Linked DNA regions of Homo sapiens. The protein of the gene in region 3 purifies or fractionates together with the protein of the main gene of each other region. This does not show direct contact. Each region holds a gene or a part of one and is shown on either strand. Other genes may lie near its edges.

Region 1 (6,583 bases), on a different chromosome or scaffold from region 3:
ATAAAGCTAGCAGTTTCAATAAACCACATCAAAAAGGTCTGAAGCCTTTCATGATATTCTCGAAAGCCTCTACATGTCATGTCAGCCTAGGGAAAAAGCCAGGAAAAGTCAGGTGAAACTCATCACAAAGGTAAGTGAAAGTCCGCAGAACACAAAATTATCCTGTGGGAAAATGTTTAGAAGTCTCAGATTAAGATGTGAACATAGATACAGACATACACACAAAATAGATCTTGGTTTATAATGCTGATTAAAACTTGTTTACTGCAGTTAGAATAAATCACTGACAACAAAACTACATACAGGTTTCAGGCAAATAGAACTTTACTCAATAAATATTTAGATTTATCTTTACCTTATATATCTGAAAGGTAAAGTTTTCTCCTCCTGTTGGACTGAGAACTGAGTAGGTATGAAGTAAGGTTCCGAATGGCTTGAAATCAACTTCCTTTTCCAGTAAAGAAAGGAAATCATTCGTGTTTGTGCAAAATCCAGGTGGAATGATTTGTCTAATTTTGCCCTCAACATCATCTGCCTAAAGAATAAAGGATATAAAAAATTAATAACAAATTCGACTTTAAGTTGAATATGGTTTATTTCTTTAAAACTGACAAAACCAACACAAATTACAAAACTTTGGTTGAAAACTAAAGAAGTAAACACACAGCGAATTGGAAAAGGATGAGCTTCCTGTGCACAAACTGCATCACACAAAACTGAGATGAGCATAATATAAAAGTAAATAAGAGAAGGCAGGTGACCTGATACCAAGTACAATAATAAGGGCAATGCTATGGACATTTCCATTATGCAGAAACAGCTGACTATACCCCTTCATGACAGTCTGAACTGGCCAAGGCAAAAGGTTGCTTATTATTTTATATGTGTCAAAGAAATCATATTATCCAAGACATGAAAAGATCACCAGCAGTGGTGAGATGAGACTAGAGTCTGACCAAATGAATAGCAATCTCACAACTAGATGGGTCACAATTCCCTCATATGCCAAACTCAAACTAAGATGATAACTTAAAAATATACATATTTAGGAAATAACATAAATTATATGAATGGATATATCATTCTTTTATCCTTAGAATGTGACACAATTCTTACAGACCTGGATTTGTGACAGTAAAAAAGAGACAAGACTGGACAACAAAACTAAACTCGGAGATTAAAATTACCCTTGTTAAACAACCTCTATCAATGTTATCAGCTGAGCAGACTTCATAATCCTTTTCAAAATCCCAAAAGACCACTTGATTGAATACATTTACTACTTCTCTTTAACCATGAATATTTGATGAAGTCTTACAATAAAGTATTGCTGCTTCTCACCAGGCAATAAAACTTAATGAATTGGTCTCAACTTAACAAAACCTTATCCCTCAATACAGTCCCTAAAAGCCTGACATTACATTCAACAAAATGAGCTTGTATTCTATTCAAACTTTTTCCTGAACAATGAGGCCAGGTTTTTACTTAATGGAGTTTGCCGTGAGTTCAGCTGTAATGTTTGTATTGTATCTATTTCCACAAGGACTGACACAAGAACACTTTGTGTTAACTTACTAAGCAGCTCTTTCATACCGTTTACATGCATGATGGGTATTAGTTCTAAACCAAGACCCTTGCTACTTAGCATTCAAAACAGGGAAATTAAGATGCTTAGGACAAAATACACTACAAAAGGCTAATACAACATGCTACTAATTCCTATCCTTTCAACCATCTTTTAACTAAGTAGAAGCAATGCACCTGCAGATGAATAGCACTTTATTATGATTCAGTTACATTTCAGGATAGAGAACCAGTGATGACGTTTATCACAAACAAGTTTTATTTTCAATGCTCTGGTACCACCAACATTTATATATAATTTGTTTATAGGTATAAAAAAGACCTATTATTGAAAATATAGCTCTTCAGCATTTTGCCCAACAGTTTATTTCTAATATGTACATCAGTCCTTGCAACTCATTCACACTCTAGATCAAATAAACTGCATTTCATAGGACAGTTTTTGCTTATTTTTAAAGTACTATTTGATAAATATTTTTCCTTGAAATTGCTAACATGAAGAGGCCATCGTAAGCATATTTTATAGTATCAGTACAATTTCAACAGCTATCAAGGAAACTGTCATAATGAGGGATAGCTGTAATAGATGTGTTGTGTAGCAATTAAAATCCAAAGTAGTGATGAGTAAAACAGTATAGTATGTTAGTTAAGGTTTTTAAAAAGCCAAGAAAAACTACTTTTAAAAAGGGATTTATAATCTATCAGTTTAAAAATCACTTTAAGACTTTCATAGCATGTATAATTTTAACTTTTAAAAACTTTCCTTATGTCCTGTCTTCTCAAGAAGGCATTGCAAATCACTTTACATATCTTGTATCAAATCTACTTCAAAGACTTCTCAGAAACTCTAAGTTTCAAGTAGCACTTTTGGTGGCGGGCAGAGCAACCAGAAGGTTTGAGCCCAACAAAGTTGAAAAAGGGCTTTCAGCCTTCAAAGGATGTCTATTTCCTGTAATAAATATCTTCAAATAAAATAGTTTGCTTTGTGTAAGTTTACACATTAAGAATTTTTACGGGGCAAAGGGCAATTTTAAAGCAAGGAATCTTTATATAATTATATAAATATATATTTATAAATAGTTATGTATATAAATATGTATCTGATATACTTACATAAAATATACAACTTAAAACCAAATAGTTCTTCAACCTAGAATTTACAACTTCGCTTCACTAAAGGGAAAATGTCTGCATTTCTCTATTAAATGGATTCTGCTTTAAGAAAAAAAAAAATCCTGACTACCATGTCTTAGAGATCTGTACTCTTTTCTCAAATATATAATTTAGTTTAATTTAAAATATTCGTCTTTCAGATTGGATTACTGATCAGATAATAAAATCAGCACAAGAGCAAGACCTCATTTAATCATTGTTAATTGAATAGAGTTAAAAATGAACAGAAACTTTTTAATTCCAATGTTTGTGGCTAAAAGTTTAGAATCTATTTCTGAAGATCACTGAAAAATTCCCTGTATTCCAGAGCATTATTCTAAACTTCAACTAAAATTATACAGAAATATAGAAAGGGTAAGAAATTCAGCTGACTAGACACACCAGGGAACTAGAATTTCAAAAAAATTTTTAAAAAGACACCAGGCTGGGCATGGTGGCTCACACCTATAATCCCAGCACTTTGGGAGGCCAAAATACGCACATCACCTGAAGTCAGGAGTTTGAGACCAGCCTGGCCAACATGGTGAAACCCTGTCTCTAATAAAAATACAAAAGTAGCTGGGCGTGGTGGTGTGCACCTGTAATCCCAGCTACTTGGGAGGCTGAGGCAGGAGAATCACTTGAACTTGGGAGGCGGAGGTTGCAGTGAGCCAAGACTGCGCCACTGCACTCCAGCCTGGGTGACAGGGTGAGACTCCGTCTCAAAAAAAGAAACCAGAATACAACCTGATATATTTAATTAACAAAGACATCTCTTACAAATGGTTTCCTAACGCTTGGTAATTTATTTTTAAAAAGGAAAGTGCAAAAGTATTCTAGTTAGATATTCTGGTAGGTGGGTCATTATGAAATATTTTTAGATTGTATACTATTTAACTATGGTCATTTCAAGTTCCAGTGTTCTGTACTTTATTACACATGAACATGTTCATATGGAGCAATTTTTGCATTTCCTCATTATTGAATAAAGCGATATGCCTGATAATTAGTAATCTATTTTTTTAATGTTTATATTTGTATTTATACACATTTGAAAACCCAATAACCTCTCTAACATCTTATCTTAAGCAGCACCATTTGTCTAAATTTGTCTAGTTATTTTTGAGATTGAAATTAAAGGCACGTTAAGTAGGTGGTAACATGTTGTTCTTTACTTGGCTAAAGTGGTACATAGACTTAACTATAATTCTAAGACTACCTAAAATATGCTAAAAAAAAAAAAAACAAGCAAAAGAAATTCTGTATCTACTTAATGTTCTCAATCTCATGTTCTCTGATAATATTTAAGCTTTAACTACAGAATGTATTGTTGAGAAATTAAAAGTGTGAACTTTTTCACTAATGGAAAAACAAAGGTCATATTATGTTTATTTACACTGCATTAGTATTTTGCTACTTGAACTAAACAAGATAAACTTGTCAATATATACTTTTAAAGCTCTTTATGATATTTCATAAAAAGTATTACTTATCAAGAACACCATCACAATTTGAAATTTTACTAGTCTACCAAAGATTTTTTCGAAATTTCTGGAAGTATGTAGGATTTTCCTAGAAAGAGGCTAAACACTCCATAAAATTTTTAAAATCTGCTCTCATATCCTCTCAAATTCAATCCAATTAGTGGGACACTAGGATAAAATAACTGAAATTCACAGTTAATACAAACTTTATCCATCTATTTCAACTTCCTGTACCAAACTTTTCCCAGAAATGCTAGCAATTAGCAAGACAACAATCTTAGTTACCCACTACTTCACTAAAAGGCAATGAAATTACCCCCAAGAAAAGGCAGGAGGTTTTTGTTTTTAAGACAAGAGTCTTGCTCTGTCACCTAGGCTGGAATGTAGTAGTGTAACCATAGCTTACTGCAGCCTTGACCTCCTGGGCTCAAGAGATCCTTCTGTCTCAGCCTTCCAAGTAGCTGGGACTACAGGAGCATGCCATCATGCCTAGCTTTTGTTTTCGTTTTTTGAGACAGAGTCTTGCTCTGTCACCCAAGCTGGAGTACAGTGGCGCGAACTCGGCTTCCTGCAACCTCCACTTCCCGAGTTCAAGTGATTCTCCTGCCTCACCCTCCTGAGTAGCTAGGACCACAAGCACGCACCACAACACCTGGCTAATTTTTGCACTTTTGGTAGAGATGAGGTTTCACCATGTTGGCCAGGCTAGTCTCAAACTCCTGACCTCAAGTGACCTGTCCACCTCGGCCTCCCAAAGCGCTGGGATTACAGGTTTGAGCCACCACGTTCAGCATTTTTTTTTTTTAATAGGCAGGGTCTTATTATGTTACCAAGGCTGGTCTCAAATTCCTGGCCTCAAATGATCCTCCTGAGTCAGCCTACAGAGTAGCTGGCATTACAAGCACAGAGCAGGAGGTGTTAATAAAAGCAAAGGTCAAGGACAACCAGATGAAAAAATCATCAGTGTCTGAATAATCAAGTTTATTGTATTGTAAAATTCAGAATTATGTTTCCTTTAAAGATGGTGGCTAGTAGAGATTTTATAGGCATCTTAATTGTGACTGAAGAATTTTAGGTGCAACTAGAGCATTCAGCTTGGAAAAGTAAAAGAATGGATGATTAAAAATTAATGTAATGACATAATCCTAATAAGAAATAACTTCTAAGCAGATGTTATGGCTGCTGACCATCTATGCAGTATGATCTGCAAAGCCCTAATATATTAGACTCAAACCTAACATCCAAAATAAAATTTTTTTATTGTTTCCACTTAAACCTATTTCTTCTATAGTTTTCCCAGTTAACAGTACCATAATTGAACTTGGGCAATGGGGTTCTCGTTTTTTTTCTTCATCTGTCACATCTAATTCAACAGCAGACCTCCAAAATGTTCCTTACTCTGACAACTAAGTCCAGTGTCACCTCTAACACTGCAATGTTCCGGTCTCTTCTTTCACTTTTGCCCTATACAGTGTGTTCTCTGCACAGCAGCCAGAATCATATTTTAAAAATATAAATCACATTGTTTATGACCTCCACCTACTTAAGAATGCCTCTAAAGAATGCCAACTACTCTTATTTCTTGCAAACACCTATCACAGAACACAAGATCCTATATGATGATCTAGCTTTGCATCCCCTTCAACCATCTCCTACCCCTCTCTCCATCACCACAATGATTTAACCCTGGTAATCTTTCTGGACTACAAAAATGCCAAAAATGCTGTATTTTTAGAGCCTTTGTATCTTAGTAAGCTTTACCCTCAGATTATAACATGGCTGGTTCCTCCTTTATCATTCAGAAATGAGCAAAATGTATCTTCATAATACTGCCTGAATTTAATTTGTGTATTTACTATTTTGTTTACTGACTGTTCCTCTTGGCTAGAATGTAAGCTCCATGACTTTGTCTGCCACTGTATCGCTGGCATCAACAACACAGAAGGCACTATGGAATGAACACTCACTGCAAACTGAGATAGAAGAAGCAAGCCCATGACCCACATATCCCCTACCCAATCGTTTTTAATAAGGGGAAAAAAGTCTTTGTTTGAATACGCAATATAAATGATCTTTGACCACAAAGCAAATAAGTAACTCTACAAAGAGACATTATAAAAGATTGATTCCTTATTCCTAACACAGTATTTCTAAATGGAAAAACCTAATTTTCAAGAATGGAACAATTAGATGTCAATGCAAATACACAGCTATTTTCACTGCATGAAATATTTAAAAGATTTATCTATAACTAAATCAATAGTTCCTTTGGAAGAAATCAATTCAGTGCTATCAGCTGCAACTGTAAAAAACAAAAACCCTCCAACAGTGGGTTTACACACAAGGAAAAACATCACCTGCAT
Region 2 (6,583 bases), on a different chromosome or scaffold from region 3:
ATAGCCTTAAAATCATTATATGAGGTGGTTATCAATTTTAATTTGCAGGCTATTTTTCAAAGATTTTAAAGGAAAATTTTGAATTAAAAGTTTAATATTTTTCAGGGAGTTGATGCGATCAAATTAAAGTATAAGTTTTAGAACTCATCTTTTTTTTCATTAACTCTAAACAAGGCCAAAGTATACTTTAGAGAATGAATGATCCATTGGTATATATGTCATTCTTAACTTAATATTAAAATAGGCTGGGAGAACTCATTTCTGATTTACTATGTATGGAATGAATTAATAGTAGAAGACCATTTCCCTGGAATATCTGGTATCTGGTTTATTTTAGTTTAGTGCTATTTCTAGAGTTTACATATCTTAACTCTGAAAGGGTTTAATTAATAAAAATGTGCTTAAGTTTACTATTATGTTCTTATAATGGGATATATGATATGGAAAGAAGTAAACTAGTTTAAATAGCATATTTCATTAAAAAGAACTTTTAAAATAAATTTGTCACTTGAGGACCATATTAAGTGTATATTATCATCTTTCATCAATTGCAGATACCTTGATTTGCTTGAAAATAGAAAAAGTAAAATAAAAATAAAATCTTAATACTTAGTGACGAACCCAACAGCTGCATTTACTAGTTCTCACACCAAAAATCAGAATTTACTCCTTTCCTTCAAAATTGAAGAAAAAAAACATGGTCAGGACATTGTGTTCTGCAGATAGGAGGCTGGCAAAATTATACATCAGCAGAATTTGTTTTGACAGCATCTGTAGAAATGAGGGTGGGATTGGGTTAATTGTGCTGAAATGGCACTTTTGAAAACATCTGTCAGTGTCAAGTTGCTCTTCCTATTTCTTTTTCAAACCTTACTTTCAACTTGTATATCTCGAGTTTCCCTGCTCAGTAATAAGTTATTCCGGTTAGTCAAATCTGTGAGCATTTATAACATGACTTTACCTCTCAGAATCATTCTTTCCCATCCTTTACTATCTGTACCACCCTTCTGTAAATTGATCTATCTATAACTTGAGATTTGAGTTCCCATTGTATTACTGCAGCCTGAGGAACAAATCAACATTTACGTATCCCAGTATCATCTACTAATTTAAACTGATGGATGAACAGTCTACTACAACTGTAAACTTTAAAGTTTTTCCTTTTGGGTCATCTTTCACCTGTGATCTGGTTTGTGCCTCACAACCCTTAGGTACTACAGGCAGAGAGATCTATTATTTATCCATTTTCATAGCTAGAAAAAATAATGGGTGGCATAAGTAGTTTATTTAAATTTATTTTGAAAATCTGATTATTATAGTTTGTTTAGAAATAAAGCATTATTAAAAGAGAAAAGATTTTTAACTTAAGCTTCAAGAAAAGTAAGCCCTTATCACACACATAAACATTGTCTATAAATAAATAGAAGATTGTGATTTGAAAATTAATGCAGTACACTTTTTTAACTTTTAATAATTCATTTAAAAGTCTAATCTTTATCCAGATTCCAAATCAGTGGTATTTAGGAAGTGGTATTTTCTTTTATATAAAATAAGGCAGCCTGAATGTTAGTCAAATTAATTTTTTTATGAAGCCTGCATTATCTTTTCATTTATTACATTCTTTAAGGTGTTAACTATATATACATACACACATACATACAAATATATTCATATATATTTATATATAAATAATATATATATATATATATTTTTTTTTTTTAATTTAAAGGCTTTTAGTCCTGATGGTCGTTGGTTAATAAGTGCTGCGATGGATTGCTCTATTAGGACTTGGGACCTTCCTTCTGGGTGGTAAGTTTATATTTCTAATTCCCTAACCTCTATAAGATTTCTAAGTTATTTTTTTCACATGTGACTTTTACCGATAGTTAATGGGTTATATGCTTTTTCAATGTGACTATATTTGGAGATTTTTCTGACATGACTATATTGTATCCTTGGAGTGTTTTTGATAACTAAACAGCAGGTAGTAGTGTCATGAAACATAATAGAAAAATGAAATCTCTCTTAGGTTTTCTCATCCTGCAAAATTGAGATACAGAAGCGAGATGCCTAAACCTTAAGAAAGCTCATTTGACCTTTTTGATACTCCAAAATAAAGCTCAGACTTAAGGATGGCAAACTTTTGAGTTTTTTTAGTTCATGCTGAATTTAGTTAAAAGGTCAAACCCCCTAACTTTTCCTTTTTGTATGTCTCTTCTGCTTCTCTGACATAATTCTTAAAAGAAGGCATTTTAGATAGTCTTAGTGCATTTTCTGTTGCTTATAACAGAATATTGAAACTTGGTTATTTCTAAAGAAAAGGAGTTTATTTCTTACACTTTGGGGGATTGAGAAGCCCCAGGTCAAAGGGCCATATCTGGTGAGAGCCTTCTTGCTGGTGGAGACTCTGAAGAGTCCCAAGGTGGTATGGAGAATCACAGAGTAAGGGGACTGAGCGTGATAATGTAATAGCTTGAGTCTGTCTTTCTCTTCTTATAAAGCCACCAGTTTCCCTTTCATGATAATCCCTTAATCCATGAATGGGTTAATCCATTAATGAGGACAGAGTCCTCATGATCCAATCACCTCTTAAAGGCACTCCCTCTCAATACCATCACATTGGGGATTAAGTTTAAACATGAGTTTTGGAGGGGACATTCTAACTATATCTTAAAGTGGTGAAAATGTGTGTCTTCGGATTTGGTTAAAACGTAACAAATGTTCAGAAATCTGTTTCATGGGTTGAAATTTGCTGCTAATCCAGGGCTTTAAAGAGAAAGTGGTATGAACAGAGGAGACATACAGAATGTGTCGGCTTTGTTGTTAAAAATTAAGTAGGTATAGATACCATTTAAAATCATCTCATTTAACATAGGATTGCTTAGATGAGTATGAAGAAAGGAAGAATTGTGGGAATAGCAAAACATCTAATTTAACAGTAACATACCATTAGAGAAAGATAGGTGAGAAAAATGAGAAGGAAGGTGGTACTTTTTAATCTAAAATATTCCCAAATTAAGCTCTGTTCACTTCCTCTTCCTACTCAGGAATTGGATAAGCTCATACATGAAAACAGTTTGACCTTTAGGAAGGAAAAACCCTGATGTCCTCAGTTCCCTTCGAGTTCGAAACAGGCCTGAGGCATACCTACCCATCTTGCATATACACTGGATTTGTAGTAAGCACAGCTAACGATTGTCACTAGTGGGTCCAGCTCTAATAATCAGGGACCTTTGTCCACAGGTTTGTCTCTTTCACTTAAAATAGAGTGAAGCAAAATCGAATTTATTGACTGTATCCTCCTCAGGCTTCAGAAAGTTCACTTAAAGTTGGTATTTCTTCAATTAAAAAAACATTTTGTTAAAGACACTATTAGAAATATTAGTGGTCTGTCACTTCTTGGGCTGTTGCTATTTTCTAAAAGTTAATGTTATATAATTTGAATTGCTTTAAAATAAGAAAGTTGTATAAATAGTAGAGTTGGCATAGTGCCTTTTTCATTTTCCTGTTTAATAGTTTTAGTTTATATTAGTGAGAGAGATAGATTATTCAGTAGTAGTAAATTGGCAATGTATTATAAGTGGTAAATTCGTCTTTGGAATGAAAAAATTAGGATCTGAAAGTAGCATTCAAAGCCACTAACCTTTGACTCAGCATTAGCCTTTTGCTGAATTTCTTATATCAGTAAGAAGTTGAACAGATTCAAATCTGATAGATTTTCAGCTCTAGTATCTTTATTTTTAGGTGAACAGGCAATTTTAAGTGAATAGAGAGGCATGAAGCTGGGTGTAGCACAAGAGCAAGAAGTGACCACATCGAATTGTTAAAAGAAAATGTAATAAAATGTACATTGATTGAAGAAAAGTATATTTTTATTAAAGAAAAAAGTTTTGGTTAAAATTTGAAGTGGACCAAATGAGAGAGCTTGAATAACTATCCAACAACTGCTGCTGCTTAATTGCAACTAAGCTAAGATTTACAATGTGCTGCTAGGCACTGTTTATGCTTTTATTTTTCATATCCTAACAAGTTGTAGGTACTATTACTGTTATTAGTCCCATTTCAAAAATGAGGAAGTGGAGGCTATTAGAGAAATTAAGTGATTTGCCCAAGGTGACTTAGTTTATAAATGACAGAGCGCAAAATCAGCACAGGAGAAAGAAATAGCTTTCTTAACACTTATGTTATCATCTTTGCTCAGACTGTGTCTTGTTTTAAGTATGAACTGATTTGCTTGGAAAAAAAAAACATAATTAGTATGACAACCTTTGGAAATTCCTAGTTCTTCTTTCAATTAAATAATTTGAATAATGAAAACAAATTACATAGCCTGGAAAGTGAAGCTATCTATGAGTAAACCCTTGAGTGTATTAACATACAGGTATATCCATCTGGAATTGTGCCTATCTGAAACAAATTGCATGGGTATTAAAGTTTCCTGTAAAGTTTTTTTAAAGTGGTGAAACATTTTTTATGTTTGTAAAATTTTCAGAGGAGCAAAGTTGAAATTTTTTATCTAAAATTATCATTCCTCTGCCACTACCACCACCTTTTATGTCTGGTTGTTTTTGATCTAATAGAAATTCAGATTGAATTCTTTCTTATTTTTTTTTTCTGAGACCAAGTCTTGCTCTGTCGCCCAGGCTAGAGTACAGTGGTACGATCTCGGCTCAGTGCAACCACCGTCTCCCAGGTTCAAGCAATTCTCCTGCCTCAGCTTCCCGAGCAGCTGGGACCACAGGCGTGTGCCACCATGCCTGGCTAATTTTTTTTTTTTGTATTTTTAATGGAGCTGGGGTTTCACCATGTGGCCAGGCTGATCTCAAACTCCTGACCTCAAGTGATCCACCCACCTCAGCCTCCCAAAGTGCTGGGATTACAGCCATGAGCCACGGTGCCCAGCCAGATTGAGTTCTTTGAGGGGTGAGAAATATATAAAATTAAATAATCTTAATAGAATTTTTCATTTGTTCTGTCTCACCCCACCCCTACTTCCTGAGGAGAATTACATGAGAATAATTGGAATAGAACATTGTTTTCAATTTCTCACTGAGGCAGAAACATCCCCTTCTTCCTTAAAGATTTCTGTGGAAGGTGATTTTAGCACTTTGGAAATAGAACATATGGAAGCAGTCTCCATTTGCTCAGAATAATAATCAGAAACAACCTTCTGAATTGTTATGCAGGGCTCTGATCTTGTAAATCTGATCTCTTAGAATAGGAATTGTTTTAATATTATTTCAGAAAAAATTGTAAGGTACCTTGGGACTTACTTTTTTAAGATTACCATGAAACTGTATGGTAGTTTTAGGTCTGGGATGAGCCTGTGCATTTATGTTTCATGAACTAATGTGGCAGTGTAGAATATGCTGTGTATGTGGAAACCACCTTCCTCAATTTGGTGGTTTTATATAATGGAAGTCCCATCTACCCACACACCACAGCTGTGGAAATGAAGTTACACAATGAAGTTGACAAGATAATTATAGTTTGAAGTAAAATAAGTTTGCTCAAGCAGTAAGCTTTTTAACAGATAGTACCTAAACATGTTAGGAAGTTTTACCCTTCACGTATGTAAACTTTTGATGAGTAATATTAAGACAAAGGAAATACCTTAAGATTTGAAATTGCCGTGTTTTAGGTTTAATCTTTATATGTGTTAGGATAATATCTTCATCTCTGGATTGTTTGGATTAAATGACTTAACATAAATAATTTAATAGTGTATGGCATAGAATAAGTATTTAGCAAATGTTTTCTTTTCCCCAATTCTCTTGATTCCCAATAAAAGCCATTCTTGTGGGCTTTCAAAACAGACTTGAACAGAAATCAGACAGGTTATTGCTCCCTTCCCCATAATGGACAATTAAACAGCAGTCCTTTTCCTGAACACACTTTGATGTGTGTGTGTTTGTTTCCAGTGCTTCTAATTGTTGTCTTTTCTTTCCATCTTGCATTCATTGTTTAAGGTTTACATTTTTATTGGCTCTTTTAGCAAATTGAGAGAGGCGTTTTACCATGGGCAAGCAACTTAATGCCTCCCACTGGACAGTCTTCATTTACATTTGAGCTGCTCACAGTGTGTGTCCCATGAATCACTGATGTAGGCATACCCTCAGTGTGTGTAAGCTGTTGCCCTGTTTTTGTGTTTTAGTTTCAGTAGTGGCTTTACTAGAATTTATATTGGCTAACAATATAAATTGGGTAGAACTGCTTGGGTAAAAATCCTGACCCAGTTGCTTTCTACCTTGAGCGAGTTTTCAAATCTTACTGGGCCTCAGTTTTCTGGACTGATCCGCCTTAATAGGGTTTGTGAAGATTCGATTAGTTAGCACGCTCAAGTGCTGAGGATACTTCCTCACACAGAACACTAAAAAAGTGTTAATCTTGTTCTTGAAATAATTTGTATTAATGTACATCCGGAACTTGAGTCATTTGTGTGTACCTTCCTATGGATAATATATTGGCTTCAGAAAAGCTGTAATTAAAAACCAGTATACTCTGCTTAAAGCTATTCTCGCTTTTAGCCAGCCTAAGGGGTCTTTCAGCAGGATTCAGATGAGTGTAGGCCTTTCTCTTTGCT
Region 3 (5,293 bases):
CAGATAATGATGTGCAAGTGTAAAAAACTCAAAACTGGCTTTCTCTTCAATACAGACATATCTTTAAAAAGGTCTTCGTCTCAGATCCATTCAGAGGGCTGAATGGACATGTGTTGTCGAATTCTGCTCCACCATAAAGGCACTGGAATTATGTCTTCCTATAATATGATGTGTGAAGAACAGTCCCCTTCTATCCAATGCATTTAATGGTAATGATGAAAACTGAGCCCAAAATAGGTGTCTGTAAAAATCCTATCATAATTGTTGAATCTACAAAGGTCTTTTCTCTAAAAGAGCTTCATTGTCATGTTCCGAGGAGAAACTGGCCCCCACAGTGAGCACACCCTAGGTGTTCTTAGTATTTCGCAGGGACAGTGCAGGTCTCCCAGCTGTGGCTCTGGCCTGAGTTTTGTCCGCTTTGAGCACACAGCCTGGGGATGGGGCGGCACTGTGACCATCCAGGGAGCTTACTGCAGCCAGAAGGAGCCCCTGAGCAGTGGGGTGCTCTGAGGTACTCTGACCAAATGCCAGGGGATCAGGCAGATTCACCCACAGGTGTGCCAACTGCTCTGCCACCAGAGCCTGTAAACACTGTGCCTCCCACCACGGCCCAGCGCAAGCCCCAGCCTAGAGCTGCCCCTCTAACAACCGTCTAGCGACAGAGCTGCAAGGCCCAGAGCACGGGGCAGTCTGCACCTCCTGAGCAGCAAGGGCCCGGCTCCCTCCATGGGAGGCACATCAGAAGTGCCGAGAAGCGCTCCGCTGAGAACTCACGCTCCTCCAGAAGAACACCAAGCAGCAGAAAGGGCGCAGTGAGTGTACATCCTGGGAGACCTGCACGTTCTGATTCCACCCAGACCCAAGTGGCAAGCCTTGCCTCTGAAGCGGTCACAATTTCCGTGGTACAGCAGGCCCTTTCCCGTGAAGCTGAGAAGCACCTGGAAAAGAGTAAGAAAAATTAGAACGCAAGTTTTTCATGCTCTCTGATTTCCTTAAGGCAGTAGTAACCAAACTTCAAGGGAGACACCTAAATAGCAAAAGTCCCCAAATGCTGAGTGTTCTAGAGCTCAAACAAGCCATGAGACACCAGCCAGCAGTTATTCGTGTACACTACTCCTGGCCACAGCCTGCAAGCACACTAGCACTGTGAAGGTCGGTGGTCACTCAGCACAGTGTTTCCAGAACAGCAACTCTGCTGTGCAACTTGGGCTACGTCATCTCAGGCTACAATTGCCATCCTGAGGCGAGGCCTGACGATCACACAGAACTCAAGGCAGCAATGATCATTCATTCTCTTACCATCAAAAGACCCTCAGGTCCTGTAAAGACAAATTCAAAGGCACTAGCATTCTCAGTCCACAGAAGAAAGAAAGGAAAGCAACGCAGACACAAGTCACGCAGCTGAAATGCGCAAATAGCTTCTTACTCGCATCTCGTGTCATCCTATAAGCTGAAGTCCATCTAAGGAAGTGAGAGAAGCTCACTTGGATAACCCTGTTTTGGTATAGTTGCTTTTCTGATTGATTTTCTTTTTCCTCGAACTTTTAAACTGATTAAAAAAAATTTTTTTAGAGATGAGGTCTCACTATGTTGCCCAGGCTGGAGTACAGCAGCTATTCACAAGCATGATCACAGCACACTATACCCTCTGATTCCTGGGTTCAAGCAATCCTCCTGCCTCTCAATGCCACCACATCCAGCCTCTGAGAGCCTTAAACAGTTTTAAAAACTGACTCATAATAATGACACATATTTTATGGGGTACATAGTGATGTTTCAACATCTAAAATGTGTAGTGTCACGTTAGAGTTATTAGCATATCCATCATCTCAAACGTTTTTCATCTCCTTTTGCTGGCGACGTTCAATATCCTCCTCCTAACTGAAACTACATACTACTGTTAACTACAGTCACCCTACAGTGGTATAGAACACTAGCACTTATTCTTCCTATTCTGATAGCCTTTTCATACCCAGAGGAAAAATGAAAATATAGCAGAAAGCAATCTTTTGAGACAGGGTCTCACTCTTGCCCAGGCTGGAGTGCAGTAGCATGACCACGGCTCGCTGCAGCCTCGACCTCCTCGGCTCAAGTGATCCTTCTGCCTCAGCTTCCTAAAGAGCTGGGACTACAGGCACATGCCACCACACCTGACTAATTTTTTTCTTTAAATGTAGAGATAGGGTCTTGCCATGTTGCCCAGGCTGGTCTTGAACTCCTGGACTCAGGCAATCCTCCTGCCTTGGCCTCCCAAAGTGCTGGGATTACAGGTGATAGCCACCGCGTCCGGCCTCAATTACTTTGCTTTTCTGAGAGTAACATTCCTGAGAGTAAGCAAAGGCAGGGCAGCCTGACTTTGGAAAGACCCCTGCTCTCACCAAGGTGGCTCTGCAGCCTCTAGTCTGTAGAGAAGTCACTGCACTTTACTTCTCCTCCCAAGGAAAGGAGGAGTCACTAGTGCTATAGGCTTAGCCCCTCAAAGAAGCACAGTTTCCATTGTGGAGATTTACAGATTTAGTCTTGCCCCATATGGCCTCTGGTGTTTACTATAATGCGCCATGGTGCCAGGGAGCCACAGCACATCATGAGGCAGATGTAACTTGGGAGACGTGCAGCACAGAGGGTCCTTACTTCCACCTGGCACCAGTTCGCCAGGGTTACCTCGGCTGGCTTCCATACGAGCGGCTCTCCCCTTATCCAAGTAGCACCCTGGTCATGTCTGAAGCGGGTCTACAGTAGGAACAATGCTAGGTCAAAGCTGAGACACCATGAGACTTCCCATGCCAGAATTCCAGGAGGCGTACCCAAGAATCGCAGACTCGGGATAGGGTGAGGCAGACGCACTCAATGCAAAGGTACCAACCCGGGGCACCTGAGCCCAGTTCTCAGGTGCTACCAGAGCAGCCTCAAGCCTGAGGCTTTTAGAAGTTCCCTATTTCAGAAGATGCTAAGGGGAGCACCGACCACATGCCTGCTGTGCTCCCACAAATCTGTTCTGATGGAGTTTTCACACTTGGACAGATTTAAAGCTGCTCCTCTCAAAGTCTTGCACTGTGGCCTCTGGCTGCTACCTGGATTTTCCCTTTAATGGAAACAAAGTTTAGAGAGCCTTCTGTTAAGCAATCACATCTGACAGTGGAGCAGCTTGCATTCCAAGACCTTGTTGTACCCAATTAGCCCTTGGAGAAGATGCACCATTACCTTCCCTTTTTTTTTTTTTTTAAACTGAAGAGAAAAAAACAAGCCGAGGGTTAGGAACTCCTCCACCGCACACAAAAGCGCACCACCCTGCCCCCCGCAACTTTCCCTGTGATCACACAGGCTGAGGCTGACCTGGCGGCAGCTCCAAGTGGGGACCAGAGGAAACCCCAAGAGTAGAAGTGCGTGTCACCCTGAGTACTGACAAAGCACAGCCTCAAAGGACAAACCAAAACAACAACAGCGTCAAGGCAAAGACACCAAGACCCTTGGCAGCGGCAAAGCACCTAGGGGTGGAGAGGGCAAAGGCACACGGTGCGCGTGGCACACTGACCGTCGGGTGATTACCTGGCAGACTCTGCGGGATATGGGTGGGCACCGCAGCGTGTGGGAGAGGCGCTGCATGGGGCGGGCTGGAGTGCAAGCCAGCCAGAAGACCTGAGAGAAAACAGGAGGGGAGAAAAGAACAAAACACACACATTGAAGACAGGAACAGGAAAGCAGCTCCAGCAGCCAAAAGCCCCCGATAACCTGCCAGGCCAGTCTGGGCACCACACCCAAAGGGGCAGTGGGGGCTTGGCACAGTTCCCGGAGATGTTCCCCACAGTCACACACCAGACTCAAACACAGGAACCAGAGTACACAACAGCAGGACCCCTGGCCACAATCTAGAGGTTCCTGAGTGACCAGAGGCAGCAAAGAAGCACTTACTGTGGCCAAGGCCATGGTGGAAGGACCCGGGGGCAGGGCCTGTGACGATGGCATCCTTGGAGACCCCTGCTTTGGCAGAGGAGTCAGCGCTGAAGGAGAGCACATGGACAGGAATAGGGACAGGGGTTATAATTCCCAAGGAGTTCGAGCTCATGGCCCCAGACAGCTTTGGGCTGCTGGATTTGTAGGGTGAAGCCATCAAAGAGGAGCCGGCCAGCAGCACAGTCCCACTCGCTCCTTTCTAGGGAAGAAACACAGCAAGCGGTAAGAACTCCAGTCCTGTTCGTGGCTCACTCACACCAAACCTGGCAACACAAAGGATCCTCCTTGTGTGTCCACAAAGGAGGACATACACATCCATGTCAGATGGCCCTGGGAGGCACCCTCCGACCCTGCAGCCCCAAAGACAGGATCCAGGACAGTCTTTATGAACCAACATGGAATGGATTCCAGGGAACATAATTTTTTTAAAAGCAGGATATTAAATATGTCTCCTACAGAGGTTGCAGTGAGCTGTGATCGCGCTACTGCAGTCCAGCCTAGGTGACAGAGCCAGACTCTGTCTCAAAAAAAAAAAGCCTCCTTTGTGAAGGGAAAAATGTAATATAGATATCCATAAATGTTCATGGATATTTATATGTGTATATATATTTATATACATACATACACACACATACATATATACCTTTATTTATATTTATTAATCTTTTGTTTAAAAAGAGGAAAATAAACCAGAAACTAAAGAGCTTAGTTACCTTACAGAGGTGGTGGGTGCAGGAAAGGAGGTGAGACCTCCAACAGACCTTTCTATGGTTTTGTCTTTGCAACCACTTCATTTATATATTAGAAAAAGAGGCCGGGTGCAGTGGCTCACACCTGCAATCCCAGCACTTTGGGAGGCCGAGGCGGGCAGATCACGAGGTCAGGAGATCGAGACTATCCTGGCTAACATGGTGAAACTCCATCTCTACTAAAAACACAAAAAATTAGCTGGGCGTGGTGGCGGACGCCTGTAGTCCCAGCTACTCAAGAAGCTGAGGCAGGAGAATGGCGTGAACCCGGGAGGTGGAGCTTGCGCTGAGCCGAGATAGCGCCACTGCACTCCAGCCTTGGTGAAAGAGCAAGACTTCGTCTCAAAAAAAAAAAAAAGAAAAAAAGAAAAGAAAATGCTCACTCCCTCTTCCCGAACCTGCTGTGATTACACACAAGCGAGATGCATTAATTATTGGACTCTGTCCTTCAAAAACCAACAGAATCACTCTTAGAAGGTCCTGCTATTCCTGGTCCATGAACACCTCCACATGACTCAACTGATAGAAGACAGCATTTCCAGCCCCCTTTAGAGAGATGGAGAGGCAAGGGGTCACGGAAGGCAAGGGCTGTT
Region 4 (6,583 bases), on a different chromosome or scaffold from region 3:
TACGCACCATGGAGACTGAAGAGCCTCCTCCACCAGGAGTGAAACCTGAAGTAGAACTCTCCACCTGCGAGAAATGACAAATCCAAATTAGTTTGAAGATAGAACCCAGGCCGCCCACAGCCTTGTAACAGGAACCCATCACCATCCAAACAACTGACTAAGACCTGAAATGCTAGTGGCCTCCATATAGTATCCAGTTCTACCCCTGGCCCACCTATGCCTGTCTAGCAGCCACCCAGAGCATAGTCTATACATAGAGTGTACATAATAAACTAAATCTTCTATATCCTACCTGCAGGGTAAAAAGGTCTGTGCCAAAAACAGAACCAGGCAATTTGTGGTGAATGCCTCTCAATGCCTCATTAATTTATGCAAATGAGTTCTTGGAGATGGAAATAGCAACTTACATTTTTTAAGAAATGTCTATTTTTCCAGTACTGTCAGAAGTATATTTTACACATATGTACTACAGGTCGGGCATCCCATCCCTTAATCCAACAATCTGAAACTTTTTGAGGACTGACTGACACTCAAAGGAAATGCTCTCTGGAGCATTTCAGATTTTAGATTAAGGGTATCCAACTGTTGAGTATGATGCAAATATTCCAAAATCCAAAAGCATTTGAAATGCAAAACACTTCTGGTCTCAAGCATTCAGGTAAGGATACTCAACCTGTATTATCCCCATTTTACAAATCGGTCAACTGAGGGAGAGAAAGGCCCATGGCCACACGTAAGTATGGAATTAAAACCCAGATAGTCTGGGGCTCCAGGGTATTTCCTCTTAACCACTGCATTACTTGATAGGAATAATTAGATGAGCCCACCAACTCCCTGGAAACCAAGTCATGATGAAAAGTTCCTGGCAAATAGAACATTAACATAAATGGTACCAAACATGCTATTATCAAAATGTTAACGGAACCAACCAGAGTAGCTTTCAGAGCCAGTTCAGCTACATTCCCACTACGCTGAGACTCCTTTGCATCTTCTATCTTCTCTCTAATTTCGGGTAGCAGTTCCTTTAGTTCCTCAATTTCTTTCTTGTATTCAGCAGACGATCCTTCAGCCTCCTTCACCTGCTCGTTTAGTACAGCTAAAAAGAATAAAGTGATTAGTAATGGCTCAAAAAAGAACTGTTTTCTTCCTTGTTAATTGCTGGATCCAACATCACCATGAAGCAGCTCGTCTTCACTCACCCATTCTGTTCTCAATGACTTCAATAGATTTGCTGAACTGTGCCACTGCCTCATCATACTGAGAGTTGTACCCATAAGCCAAGCCCAGCTGGTAGTGGGTCTCTGCAAGGAGACGGTCGTGGGCTTCCAGGTACTGTTCCTGCAGGTTAAGGCAGGACTGGAACTCCTCCACAGCTTGCACATAGTTTTCTAACAAAGAGAAAAAGAAGAGCAAGTAAATGGACAGCATTCAACATAAAATACTTCCAGAATTCAGACCCATCCTATGGGAATGCACCCATATTTAACATTCCATTTTTGTTTATAGTTATTTCCAGGACCCTTGGCTATAAAGAAAGTCAAAATGACTTTTAAAAACCTACTGAGGCTGGGCGTGGTGGCTCACACCTGTAATCCCAGCACTTTGGGAGGCTGAGGCGGGCAGATCACAAGGTCAGGAGTTCAAGACCAGCCTGGCCAATATGGTGAAACCCCGTCTCTACTAAAAATACAAAAATTAACCGGGCGTGGTGGTGGGTGCCTGTAATCCCAGCTACTCGAGAGCCTGAGGCAGGAGAATCGCTTGAACCCGGGTGGCGGAGGTTGCAGTGAGCCGAGATTACGCCATTGCACTCCAGCCTAGGCGACACAGCAAGACCCCATCTCAAAAAAAACAAAACAAAACAAACCTACTGGAAGACTGAGTGCCACTTGGAAGAGACTGTTCATTGTTCCAGGGTCTACAGGGAACACAGACCTATCTTTTTAAAGATCAAGTTCGGTTCCAGAGAATCTATTAGAGGAAGAACGAGGGAGCTGAAGAGAGTAGGAGAGTATAAAATGGAAAATGCATTACCAGATTCAACACTAACTTCTCCGAGTTTAAGATGTGCCTGGGCAGCATAAAGCTGTGCTTCTTTTGTTTCTTGCCTAAAAGAAGGAAAATTGATCAAAAACCTTAACAGTACCTGTCTAACCCTAACTGGTTTCTATTTAACCACCAAACTCCCAACCCAAGCCTAGAAGCACCAAGAGTTTTACCTTTTAAAAATGATCTTTGCTAAATCCAGCATATCCCAGGCAAGCTCTAGGTTCCCAATCTCCTCCTCCTCATTTTCTTGAAGAGACTAAAGTATAACCAAATAATAAAAAGATAGGCATCTTTTTCAAATACAAATCTAAATGTATAACTTAGCGTAGCTTAAAAAAAGTTGATATACGATTCAAAATTTGGACTTTCTCCCTAAAATCTAGAGAATGGGTCCACATACTGTCTTAAGTCATGACCATGTCACTGATATTTTAACAGTGAAATGTTGGCTCACATACTAACACACAAGAACCCCAGGATCAAATATATCCACCCATCCTAGGCATGAATAAAGGGTCCCTAATCCATAATCAAGAGACAGTTATCTATAATAATCATGCCTAGGGCTGGGCATGGTGGGTTATGCCTATAATCCCAACACTTTGGGAGGCTGAGGCAGGAGAATAACTTGAAGCCAGGTTTGAGACCAGCCTGGGCAGCACAGCAAGACAGCCGTCTAAACAAAATAAAATTAGAGAACAAATTAGCCAGACATGGTGGCAGACATCTGGAGACCTAGCTATCTGAGAAGATGAGGCAGAAGGATTCCTTGAACCCAGGAGGCTAAAGATACAGTGAGCCCTGATCATGCCAGTGCACTCCGGCCTGGGCAGAGACAGAGATTCTATCTCTTAAAAAAATAATAATCGTGCCTAAACTAGGTAAGCTACAGTCCTGCAAACTAGCTGGGCATGTTGGCACAAGCCTGTAGTCCCAGCTACTTGAGAGGCTGAGGTGAGGCGATCACTTAAGCCCGGGTCTAGGCTGCAGTGAGCCATGATCATGATCACCCCACTGCAATCCAGCCTAGGCAACAAGAGTGAGCTCCAGTCTCCCAAAAACAGAAAAAGGCTGACAACAGTACTGAGTGGCTAACAACATACCTTGTTTTCAAGGACTGAATCATTTGGCATTTCTTCGGTCTTATCATTTTCTTTATCATCCTCTTCTGAGCCTTCAGTTTCTACAAGTAAAAATTCCTCAGTATTGAGAATATAACTAAGAACGTATTCTGACTAGTCAGAGATTCCAATACACGTCTCAACCTATATTCAGATAGGACAGGCCAGATGCTAATCCAAGTGAGTTAACACCTGAACTGAATATATCGTCAGTGGGTGCAGTCTAGTTCAAGTGTAACCTAGACTAAGAATGTGCAATCTTAGTCTATGGGTCAGACCTTCAGCAATTAAAAGGCTGAGTGTTTCTCTTATAAAAGTCAACCTGGACCATTCAGAATAAGAAACATTGGCTACTGCCTCTTATTCAATGGCTAGAAGCTCCCATTCATTCAGCCAGAAGCAGGTGGAGACCTCAGTCAGTGTTTCTGGTATCTTTAAGCCACTCATTAGATAATACTAATAGCCTGGGAAAGTACGAAAGTTAAATTATTCCAGTCCATTCTGATCAAGAATGCTCAAGAGACTAGCTTTCCCACAACAGAGATGTGGAGCAAAAAGCATAGTCCTTACCGACTTACACCAATGAGCATGCCACAGACTCCAGCCAGCTCTAGCACATACAGAATTTGAGTAAGGAATACTATAACCCCTATTTTACTCCTATACCTTTGCTAATGACACCTCTAAAATCTGCAGCCATATATCAACACCATATTTCACCATATTGAATACACTCACAAGTCAACCATCTAAAGGTCAGGCTCCTAATCAATAGCGCTACTGTGATTAGACAAATCAACAATGTTAAGTGATTAAAATAAGCTTTCTGTTAACACAAACAACTCATGAATTGGATATAATATGCCTCTCTCTGCCATCTTTCATTATGCATTTTTAACACCAGCAAAAAAGCTCAAACACTATCTCCAAACACTCTTACTATGGGAATATAAATATGGCAATTAGGACTTAGAGCAATCGTCAGGTCAAAGGAGTTTTATCAGCAGCAACCACAAAGAGATTCCGTTTTCAAAGAAGCTTAGAAAATACTTTAACAGGGTCAGGCGCGGTGACTCACGCCTGTAATCCCAGCTCTTTGGGAGGCCGAGGCGGGCGGATCACGAGGTCAGGAGATTGAGACCATCCTGGCGAACATGGTGAAACCCCGTCTCTACTAAAAAAAAAAACCAAAAAACAAAAAAATTAGCCAGGTGTGGTGGCAGGCGCATGTAGTCCCAGCTACTTGGGAGGCTGAGGCAGGAGCATGGCGTGAACCCAGGAGGTGGAGCTTGCAGTGAGCGGATTATCGCACCACTGCACTCCAGCCTGGGTGACAGAGCAAGACTCCGTCTCAAAAAAAAAAAAAAAAAAAAAAGATACTTTAACAAATTTACTGAGGACATCAGGGCATTGCCATTGATACCTGGGCACAAGTTGGGAAAGGTTTTAAAGTAATGGCAATGGCTGCCAGGCGCGGTGGCTCACACCTGTAATCCTAGCACTTTGGGAGGCCAAGGTGGGCAGATCACCAGGTCAGGAGATTGGGACCATCCTGGCTAACACGGTGAAACCCCGTCTCTACTAAAAATACAAAAAATTAGCCAGGCGTGGTGGCACATGCCTGTAGTCCCAGCTACTCGGGAGGCGGAGGCAGAACAATCACTTGAACCTAGGAGGCGGAGGTTGCAGTGAGCCTAGATCACGCCACTGCATTCCAGCCTGGGTGACAGAGCAAGACTCTGTCTCAAAAAAAAAAAAAAAAAAAAAAAAAAAAGTAATGGCGATGGCTTTCTCCTTAACCTAGCTCCCCACCATTCCTTGAAGATGGTACAGATTCCTCAAGAGGAACCAGTAATATTCTTCTGAAGCAATTATAGGAATTTTAATTTAAAAATTTGATGTAAAACTTCCAAGTAATTAAGATATTTTGTTTCAAATTAGAGGTTGTCTTCTAGTATTCTGGTATGAGTAGGAAGAGATACCAGGTAAGAATAGAAGATAACAATATCAATTTAATTTTTCCTACAAATTGGGAAGATGAAGTATTTACTTTTCTATCAATTATCCTACATATGTAAATCTACTTCAGCTTTTCTGCATATTCTGCTAGAGGATGGGCAGAGTTAATAAGACCATCCATCTGGTCTAACTTTGGGGAACTAAGCCCGGACCCACTTGGAAATGTGGATATGAGAAGATAATGGTGTATGGTGGGCCAGGTGCAATGGTTCACACCTGTAATCCCAGCACTCTGGGAGGCTGAGGCTAGTGGATCACCTGAGGTCAGGAGTTCGAGACCAACCTGGCCAGCATGGTGAAATCCCATCTCTAGTAAAAATACAAAAAAATTAGTCGGGCCTGGGGACATGTGCCTTTAGTCCCAGCTACTCAGGAGGCTGACGTAGGAGAATCGCTTGAACCTGGGAGATGCAGGTTGCAGTGAGCGAGACCGCACCACTGCACCCCAGCTGGGCATGGTGATACACACCCATAGTCTCAGCTGCCTGAGAGACTGAGGGAGGAAGATGGCTTCAGCATAGGAGTTTGAGGCTGTCGTGAGCCATGACTGCGATGCCACTGTACTCCAGCCTGGCAAAAGAGCAAGACCCGATTCAAAGAGAAAAAGAACAGACCAATTATCTTTATTAGAAGCAAATGTACAGCCCAACACATGGCAAAGAGTCAAGAGGTGGCAGTAAACAGGGTTTTAATTTTTAAGTGAAAAAAACTGCTTGGAAGTTTTCTGCAGAATGGTGCTGCCACGTAAAGGGAAATAAAGCACAGAAAGTAAGTGGTTGAGTACTCAAGCCAGAAGTTTGGGTAGCAGGCTTCTCCTTACTGTGTGACTAGGGCAAGTTACTTAAACCCCTTTCTCCCATTTCTTCTTTTGTAAAATATGGAAAACTGTATTGTCTTTACAAGCAGAACAGTATCTGATATACAACACCAAAAAATGCAGCATATGAAAAGCCTGGGGCTTTTAAAATATAGTTAACTTTTTAAATAAGTGACAGATTTTTTTTTTCTTTTGGAAGACAGAGACTCGCTGTGTTGCCCAGGCTGGAGCACAGCGGCATGATCTCAGCTCACTGCAACCTCTGCCTCCCGGGTTCAAGCGATTCTTCTGGTTCAGCCTCCCAAGTAGCTGGGACCACAGGCGCATGCCACCACGTCCAGCTAATTTTTGTATTTTTAGTAGAGTCAAAGTTTCAACATATTGGCCAGGCTGGTCTCAAACTTCTGACCATGTGATCTGCCCACCTCGGCCTCTCAAAGTGCTGGGATACAGGTGTGAAGCTACTGCGCCCAGCCCACGACAAAATTTCTAAGCAGTGGGTGTAGGAAAAGGATGAACACTGTCTTCTTCAATGTGTGGTAACTTGGGAAGAATAATATATTCAAGGCAGATCTGG
Region 5 (6,583 bases), on a different chromosome or scaffold from region 3:
AGTGATAGCCTATATTTTTGGTGATACTGTTTTCTGACTCTCAACTTGGGACACTTTGTTTGCCATACAGTCTGATAAGGGAGAAGAAAATCAGAATTGCCCTAGAAAATTTGGGATGCAGGGTTCCCATACCTATATCAGAACCTACTTTATAAACACCCACTGGTAGGATTGAGCAGAGCCCAGGGGGCGGACACCCTCCCTTCTAAAGTGAAGGGGCCAGCCGGGCACTGTGGCTCACGCCTATAATCCCAGCACTTTGGGAGGCCAAGGTGGGTGGATCACCTGAGGTCAGGAGTTTGAGACAAACCTGGCCAACATGGTGAAATCTGGTCTCTACTAAAAATACAAAATTAGCTGGGTGTGGTGGTGCACATCTGTAATCCCAGCTACTTGGGAGGCTGAAGCAGGAGAATCGCTTGAATCCGGGAGGTGGAGGTCGCAGAGAGCCGAGATTGTGCCACTGCACTCCAGCCTGAGTGACAGAGTGAAACTCCGTCTCAAAAAAGAAAAGAAAAAAAAAAGCTAAGGGGTTTTACTAGGAAGTCATTGGTAGGAAGGTTGAAGCAGAAGCAGTAGTTTGGACATGAATCTGAGACCTGGAAAATTATGGTAAGAATTTTTACTTTGGTTCTTGCTGGAGACAATAAATGCTTTGTCTTATACAAATATTTATTGTGCTTCTGATGTCACTTCCTATCCTAATTTTAACAAATGCCATATATCAAATGTTTACTGTGAGCCAGACACTATGATGAACATTTTATATAAATGATTATATTAACCTATATTATAGGCCTGAAGAAAAGTGGAGCAATGAAATTTTTACAGACGTGGAAGCAGAGTAGGAGAGATTAAGTGATTTTCCATAAATCTCTCAGCTAGTCAGTGGCACAGCCAATATTCAAACCCAGATCTGTTAGCCTCTAGCATCTACATTCTTTTCACTCTACAATGTAACATTTTTGGGGGGTACTGATCGGGGAATGAGGCCTGGCTCACAGTGCAGTGGTGCGATCGCAGCTCACTGCAACCTCAAACTCCTCGGCTCAAGTGATCCTCCTACCTCAGCTTCCCAAGTAGCTAGGACTACTGGTGTGCATCACCATGCCTAGGTAATTAAAACATTTTCTTTGTAGAGGCAGGGTCTTGCTATGTTGCCCAGAATGATCTCAAACTCCTGGCTTCAAGCTATCCTCCCACCTTGGCCTCCCAAAGTGTTCGGATTACAGGTATAAGCCACCACACCAGGCCAGTGTAACCTTGTAAAAGCTCTTATTTTGTGCTTTATATTAGAGGCAGCACAGCCAGTAGTTAAGCTCAGTCTATCTGGGTTCAAATCCTGACTCTGCTCTTGTAGTTGTGTGATCTTTTTAGTTTCTTCACCACCCTGGAACTCAGTTTTTTCGTTGGTAACCCAAGAGAAGTGATTGTACTTATCTCATAGATTTGTTGTGAGGATTAAATGAGATAAGCCCTGTTCTTAGAATAGTGCATAGTGAATTATAAGTGCTCAATAAATTTCCAGCTTATTTATTCCTCACAACACGCTGCGAAGTAGATTATTACCCTCATTGTGCAGATAAGGGAATGAAGGCTCAGAGAGGAGGAGGAGCTTCCCATAGAACAAATTGAACAAGGGTTCAAACCCAGGACACTCTGACACCTAAGCTTGTGGTCCTTCCATTCTACCACCTACCTCTTGATAGGTACTTGAAATACATAGAGAAGGTCACATCACTGGCAAGACCTTAAATCTAGAGTGCCTCAGAGCAAAGGGATCAACAGCCAGACTACCAGGAAGTAAAAGGGAACTGGGATCGGTGGCTGAGATCCAGTAGGAAAAGTTTGATAGCAGAAGGAAGAAAAGATGAGAGAGAGAGAGGAGACTGATTAAGAGAGGGCAAAAGGGTGGTCAAGGGAACAAATTTTCAAGCAGAAATTTTCAAGATAGTTATCTGATGAACTGTTGAAGAAACATGTGAGCTGGTAATATGTGAAATTTATGCATTTGAATTAATCATAAATTATTAAATATGTTAATGTTGATGGAATGTTTCCTATCTTTGCACATAATCATTTTTAACTGGAAAACTTTCTTTTCCAGCCATGAAGAAAGCAGATTGAGAATGGAGGAAATGGTGCCATTGTTTTCTGAGGATACAGCAGGGTCCTCTTTCACATGTGTCTCCCCGGGACCTGGTCGTTACTAGGAGCTCACATTTGGCAGAACAGGGCTGATCTGTGTACATAGCTCTGTACTGAAACTTTCTTATGCTGAGCTGACTAGCTCCACTTACTTCACTTACTTTTTTTTTTTTTTTTGCTGAAAAAATCTTTTAAAATGTTTATATTTTAATAGAAATATTTGTTAAAGAGAAATAAGCCACACTGTGCCCTGGTCAAATAGTGAAGTAAAGATTAAGTAAATATACTTGAATATTTGTTTTTATTTTTAAAATCAGCATTATCATCTTCTTAATATATAAGGACAAACATGGCTCTCAAATATTCATGGTTGACTTGTTCAACTGGTTTCCTCTTGATAACTTCAATTAGAACTCGATCAATGCATTGTGTAATTTTTTGACAGAGCTATAAAATTAACTTTTAAACTATTTTAAATACTCCACTCTTTTAAACTATGCCTAGAGTGCCACAAGTTAAATCTAATTTGAGTTACAAAATAGTATTTACATTATATTAATTGAAGGGCAAAAAAGGTTTAAATTATTTTCCCAGCTAATGATTTGAGTCGTTACTTTAATTTATTTAATTTAGACATAGAGAATCATACAGCTTTGAGGTAGAATCAGCTTCAAGATACCATGTGGTCCAGCCCCACACCTTCAGGCAGATGAGACGTGATCCTCCCTCCTTACCTAAGCAGCAGCACAGCCACAAATCCAGCATGCCCTGAACTGTTATGAAATCTTTTTCTATACAATTTCCAGAAATCAAGAATCAATGTAATAAAACTTTCTGAATTCACAAGAAAAAAAATGGTGTCACATCATCTACCAAATTTGAGAGTCCACCACTTGGAAGGAATCATGCTGGGCATCTTAATTTAGGACAACCGTAAGGAAGGAATTATGTGGTAGGGAAATCAGGGAATATTTTACATAAAATGAGAAATACATCTTTTGGCGCTAAAGTAGGTGCTGAACTCTAACCTTAATGTAGTAATTTGTTCCAGCAACAACTTGAGTTTTATACTGCACAGCTTCCAATTTTCCGTAAGTCTCATTTGTTTTTTCTTCAAGCTGTGGTTTAACCTAAAGAAAAGAAAAGAGGAAACAAATAATCAAAGCTATATTAGACTCCATGTATGCAATGTACCCATCTGGGAACCTCATCCTCCTAAAAGTCTTCAAAGATGGTAATGAAATCTATGAACTATTTTTATTATTTCAATAGAAAACACCTGTTTTAATACAATTACATAGGTTAAAAAGTCAAATTTTGTTGCTTTAGGCTGAATTCACATCAACTCAGTGTGGTAATGCAATATAGGAGCGTTTTGACTGCTAAAACTCTAAGAGTTATATGTATCTTTGATTAATAAAAATCAGTGGAGCAATAATTACTACTTGATTAAAACATTATTTTAAAATGATTTCAGACTTAAAAGTTGTAAAATTAGTATAATGAATTCTCTTATATCATTTACAGTTCCCTTAATTTTGCCGTTTTACATAACATAGTATAATCACCAAAATGAGGAAATTAACATGGTATAATACTATTAAGTAGTCTCTAAACCTTATCAGAATTTTGCCAGTTTTCCTGAAAATGTCTCTTTTCTGCTCCAGGATCTCATGCAGGATCCTACATTGCATTTAGTTGTCATTTCTCCTCAGTCTCCTACAATCTGGGTTCATTCCTTTTTGTTCATGGCCTTGATGTTTTTGAAGAATACTGGCCTGTTAAATGGTAGAATGTCTCTCAATTTAGGTTTGTGTGATCTCCTCTTATGTTAGTATTATACATGTTTGTAAGGATAGCACAAACGTGATGTTGTGCTTAAGTGCATCCTATCAGGAGCTACGTTTCATTACTGGTGATGTTAATTTTGATCACTTAGGATGTCTGCCAGGTTTCTCCACGGTAAAGTTACCATTTTTTTCCCCTTTGTAATTAGTAAGTGTCTTGTGAGGAGTCTTGTTTCTCGCCATACTTTCATACATGAATTTTAGCATCCATTGATGGTTCTTGCCTACAACAATGATTAATTGTGGTGTTGGCCAAATGGTAATTAAAAAATCATTTCTTGTGCATTTATTATCTGGAATTCTGCCATAAGGAAGAGCTGTTCCCTCTCTCCTCTTTATGTAGTCAATTACTTATTTTATATTAATATGACTCATGGATATTTCTTTTACTCTGTGGATTACAATTCATTACTCTATTTTGTTACTCAAATGCCCTAGATTTGGCCGTTGGGAGCTCCTTCACCTGATGCCTGTGTTCTTTCAACATGCCTCCATCATTTTATAAGCACTTCCTTACTTTCTGACTCTACAAAAGTAGAGTCAGATGTTCCAGGTTTATCTTGAAGTTTCCTTGCCTCCTCACTGGAATCAACTATTTCTCCAAGGAGTCCCTGCTCCTTTTATTGGAGAACGGTATTTAAGACCCAAGATTTGGGTGCTGTGTCTCTTGTTACTAAATGTCATTGCTTCTAGGCCCACTCAGTGGAAAGGGCTACAAAATAATATGTGTACTCACACATGCACACATCTTTACGCATTTGTGTATGTGTGTGCATATATACACACATTTATCTGTGTGTCATTATATATATACATTATATATGTGTGTGTACGTGTGTGTGTGTGTGTGTGTGTGTGTGTGTGTGTGTGTATTCCTCTGATTAAAATCAAATACCACGGCCGGGTGTGGTGGCTCATGCCTGTAATCCCAGCACTTTGGGAGGCAGAGGCGGGTGGATCACTTGAGGTCAGGAGTTTGAGACCAGTGTGACCAACATGATGAAACCCCGTCTCTACTAAAAATACAAAAATTAGCTGGGCGCAATGGTGGGTGTCTGTAATTCCAGCTACTCAGGAGGCTGAGGCAGGAGAATTGCTTGAACCTGGGAGGCGGAGGTTGCAGTGAGCCGAGATCACACCATTGCACTCCAGCCTGGGCAACAAGAGTGAAACTCTGCCTCAAAATACATAAATAAATAAATAAATAAATAAATAATAAAATAAATCAAATACCACAGGACTCATTTAGCTTTTCCCTTTTCCTTATTATAACTCCTTTCTCAAACACTGAGGAAGAATCCTGGTTCTTATTATTTGCAATGTATTCGCCTATTTTCTCAGTTCTAGCATATACATAAAATAATTTCAGAATTGTTGACCTATACCCCTGTGGAAAACAATATACTAACTAGAGTGCAGTATTTGGGTATAATTCTTATAAAGACCCTGTGATTGCATGGGCTTACCTGGATAATCCAGGATAACCTCTCCATCTCCAGAGCCTTAACTTAATCACACCTGCAAAGTCTCTTTTGCTGTGTAAAGGAACCTAGTCACAGGTTCCAGGGATTAGGACATGGACATCTTTGGAGGGCCATCATTCTGTCTACCATGGAGGGATATGGGTTGGGTTTAAATGTCAGCATTCCCGAACCCAGCATGAGAAGGGAGACAGTCCCAAATTCAATATGTAAACTTTTACTGAGCCCATCAACTTTCTGTACAGTGCTTCATTCCCACTCTCAGCTGGGCCTGATATGCAAGAGTCTACTATGAGCTCTTGACTCAGTTCCTGCTAAGTGTAAAGCTCGTCTTCTGCCGGGGTGGAGGACAGTGAGGGAGAAGGAACTATGGGAGGTCTCACTGTCCTTCATACAGATCAGTCCTCTTGCTTTTGGTCTGAGACCTTACTCCTGGCTACGACTTTTTGGTGTTGCTCATGCCTGCGCCATTGTGACGTTCTGCAGTGTGAATCTGCTTGCTTCTGGCTTAGACTTTCCCCTCTATGGGCTTAGCTTCTGTTTAGACTGCTCAGCATTTTCCATTGTTCATCTGTTTTCCAACTTCCAAAATTTTATTGGTATTTCTGAGGTGGTACTTGCCTATCTCCTGTTGTCTTTATGTCTGTGGATTTGTCCTTCAACCCCAATTCTTTTCTGTCTTTTGGAGGAAAAAGGATATAACTCTCTGTGTTGAATGTACCTTGTTTATTGAGAACTTGCTTTTATGCCCTTCATGAAAGCATTGCATGTCCATACAACTTCAATCAGGCCTCCAGTCCATCTAGGATTCTCCCAAGGCAGTCCTTCCTATCAGTGGGCAGGTTTTTTTTGTTTTTTGTTTTTTTAAATTTAAGAGACAGAATCTCCCCCTCACCCAGGCTGGAGTGCAGTGGCGTGATCATAGTTCACTGCAGCCTCGAATTCCCGGACTCAAACAATCCTCCCTGGGCAGATGTTTTGAACCTTTACTACTGATGCCTCAGTTTGAGTACCAGAACTGTTTTCAAAGATGTAGACATATGCAAACTGTGAGTTCTCAGACCATTTCTGAAAGGCCAAACACTCCACGGACCACCACTCAGTTCT

What was found.
Region 1: the proteins of UBN1 (region 3) and HAT1 purify together in Homo sapiens (affinity purification with mass spectrometry, with the first as the bait; one large-scale study listed by BioGRID). This does not show direct contact.
Region 2: the proteins of UBN1 (region 3) and WDR36 fractionate together in Homo sapiens (co-fractionation; one large-scale study listed by BioGRID). This does not show direct contact.
Region 4: the proteins of UBN1 (region 3) and NASP purify together in Homo sapiens (affinity purification with mass spectrometry, with the first as the bait; one large-scale study listed by BioGRID). This does not show direct contact.
Region 5: the proteins of UBN1 (region 3) and CSTA purify together in Homo sapiens (affinity purification with mass spectrometry, with the first as the bait; one large-scale study listed by BioGRID). This does not show direct contact.

Annotation. Positions count from the first base shown.
Region 1 is NC_000002.12:171,959,290-171,965,872, reverse strand, and holds part of HAT1 (histone acetyltransferase type B catalytic subunit), read right to left. Parts: intron 536-6,583; coding exon 356-535; intron 87-355; coding exon 1-86. UniProt on the Homo sapiens protein: Histone acetyltransferase that plays a role in different biological processes including cell cycle progression, glucose metabolism, histone production or DNA damage repair. Coordinates histone production and acetylation via H4 promoter binding.
Region 2 is NC_000005.10:111,111,345-111,117,927, forward strand, and holds part of WDR36 (WD repeat-containing protein 36), read left to right. Parts: intron 1-1,729; coding exon 1,730-1,809; intron 1,810-6,583. UniProt on the Homo sapiens protein: Part of the small subunit (SSU) processome, first precursor of the small eukaryotic ribosomal subunit.
Region 3 is NC_000016.10:4,875,728-4,881,020, reverse strand, and holds part of UBN1 (ubinuclein-1), read right to left. Parts: intron 4,151-5,293; coding exon 3,910-4,150; intron 3,637-3,909; coding exon 3,547-3,636; coding exon of another isoform or gene 3,416-3,546; exon of another isoform or gene 3,169-3,415; intron 3,083-3,168; exon of another isoform or gene 2,972-3,082; intron 939-2,971; coding exon 889-938; coding exon of another isoform or gene 771-888; 3' UTR 1-770. UniProt on the Homo sapiens protein: Acts as a novel regulator of senescence. Involved in the formation of senescence-associated heterochromatin foci (SAHF), which represses expression of proliferation-promoting genes. Binds to proliferation-promoting genes.
Region 4 is NC_000001.11:45,609,818-45,616,400, reverse strand, and holds part of NASP (nuclear autoantigenic sperm protein), read right to left. Parts: intron 3,233-6,583; coding exon 3,153-3,232; intron 2,306-3,152; coding exon 2,220-2,305; intron 2,109-2,219; coding exon 2,035-2,108; intron 1,389-2,034; coding exon 1,200-1,388; intron 1,097-1,199; coding exon 930-1,096; intron 65-929; coding exon 8-64; intron 1-7. UniProt on the Homo sapiens protein: Component of the histone chaperone network. Binds and stabilizes histone H3-H4 not bound to chromatin to maintain a soluble reservoir and modulate degradation by chaperone-mediated autophagy.
Region 5 is NC_000003.12:122,334,242-122,340,824, reverse strand, and holds part of CSTA (cystatin-A), read right to left. Parts: intron 3,279-6,583; coding exon 3,177-3,278; intron 1-3,176. UniProt on the Homo sapiens protein: This is an intracellular thiol proteinase inhibitor. Has an important role in desmosome-mediated cell-cell adhesion in the lower levels of the epidermis.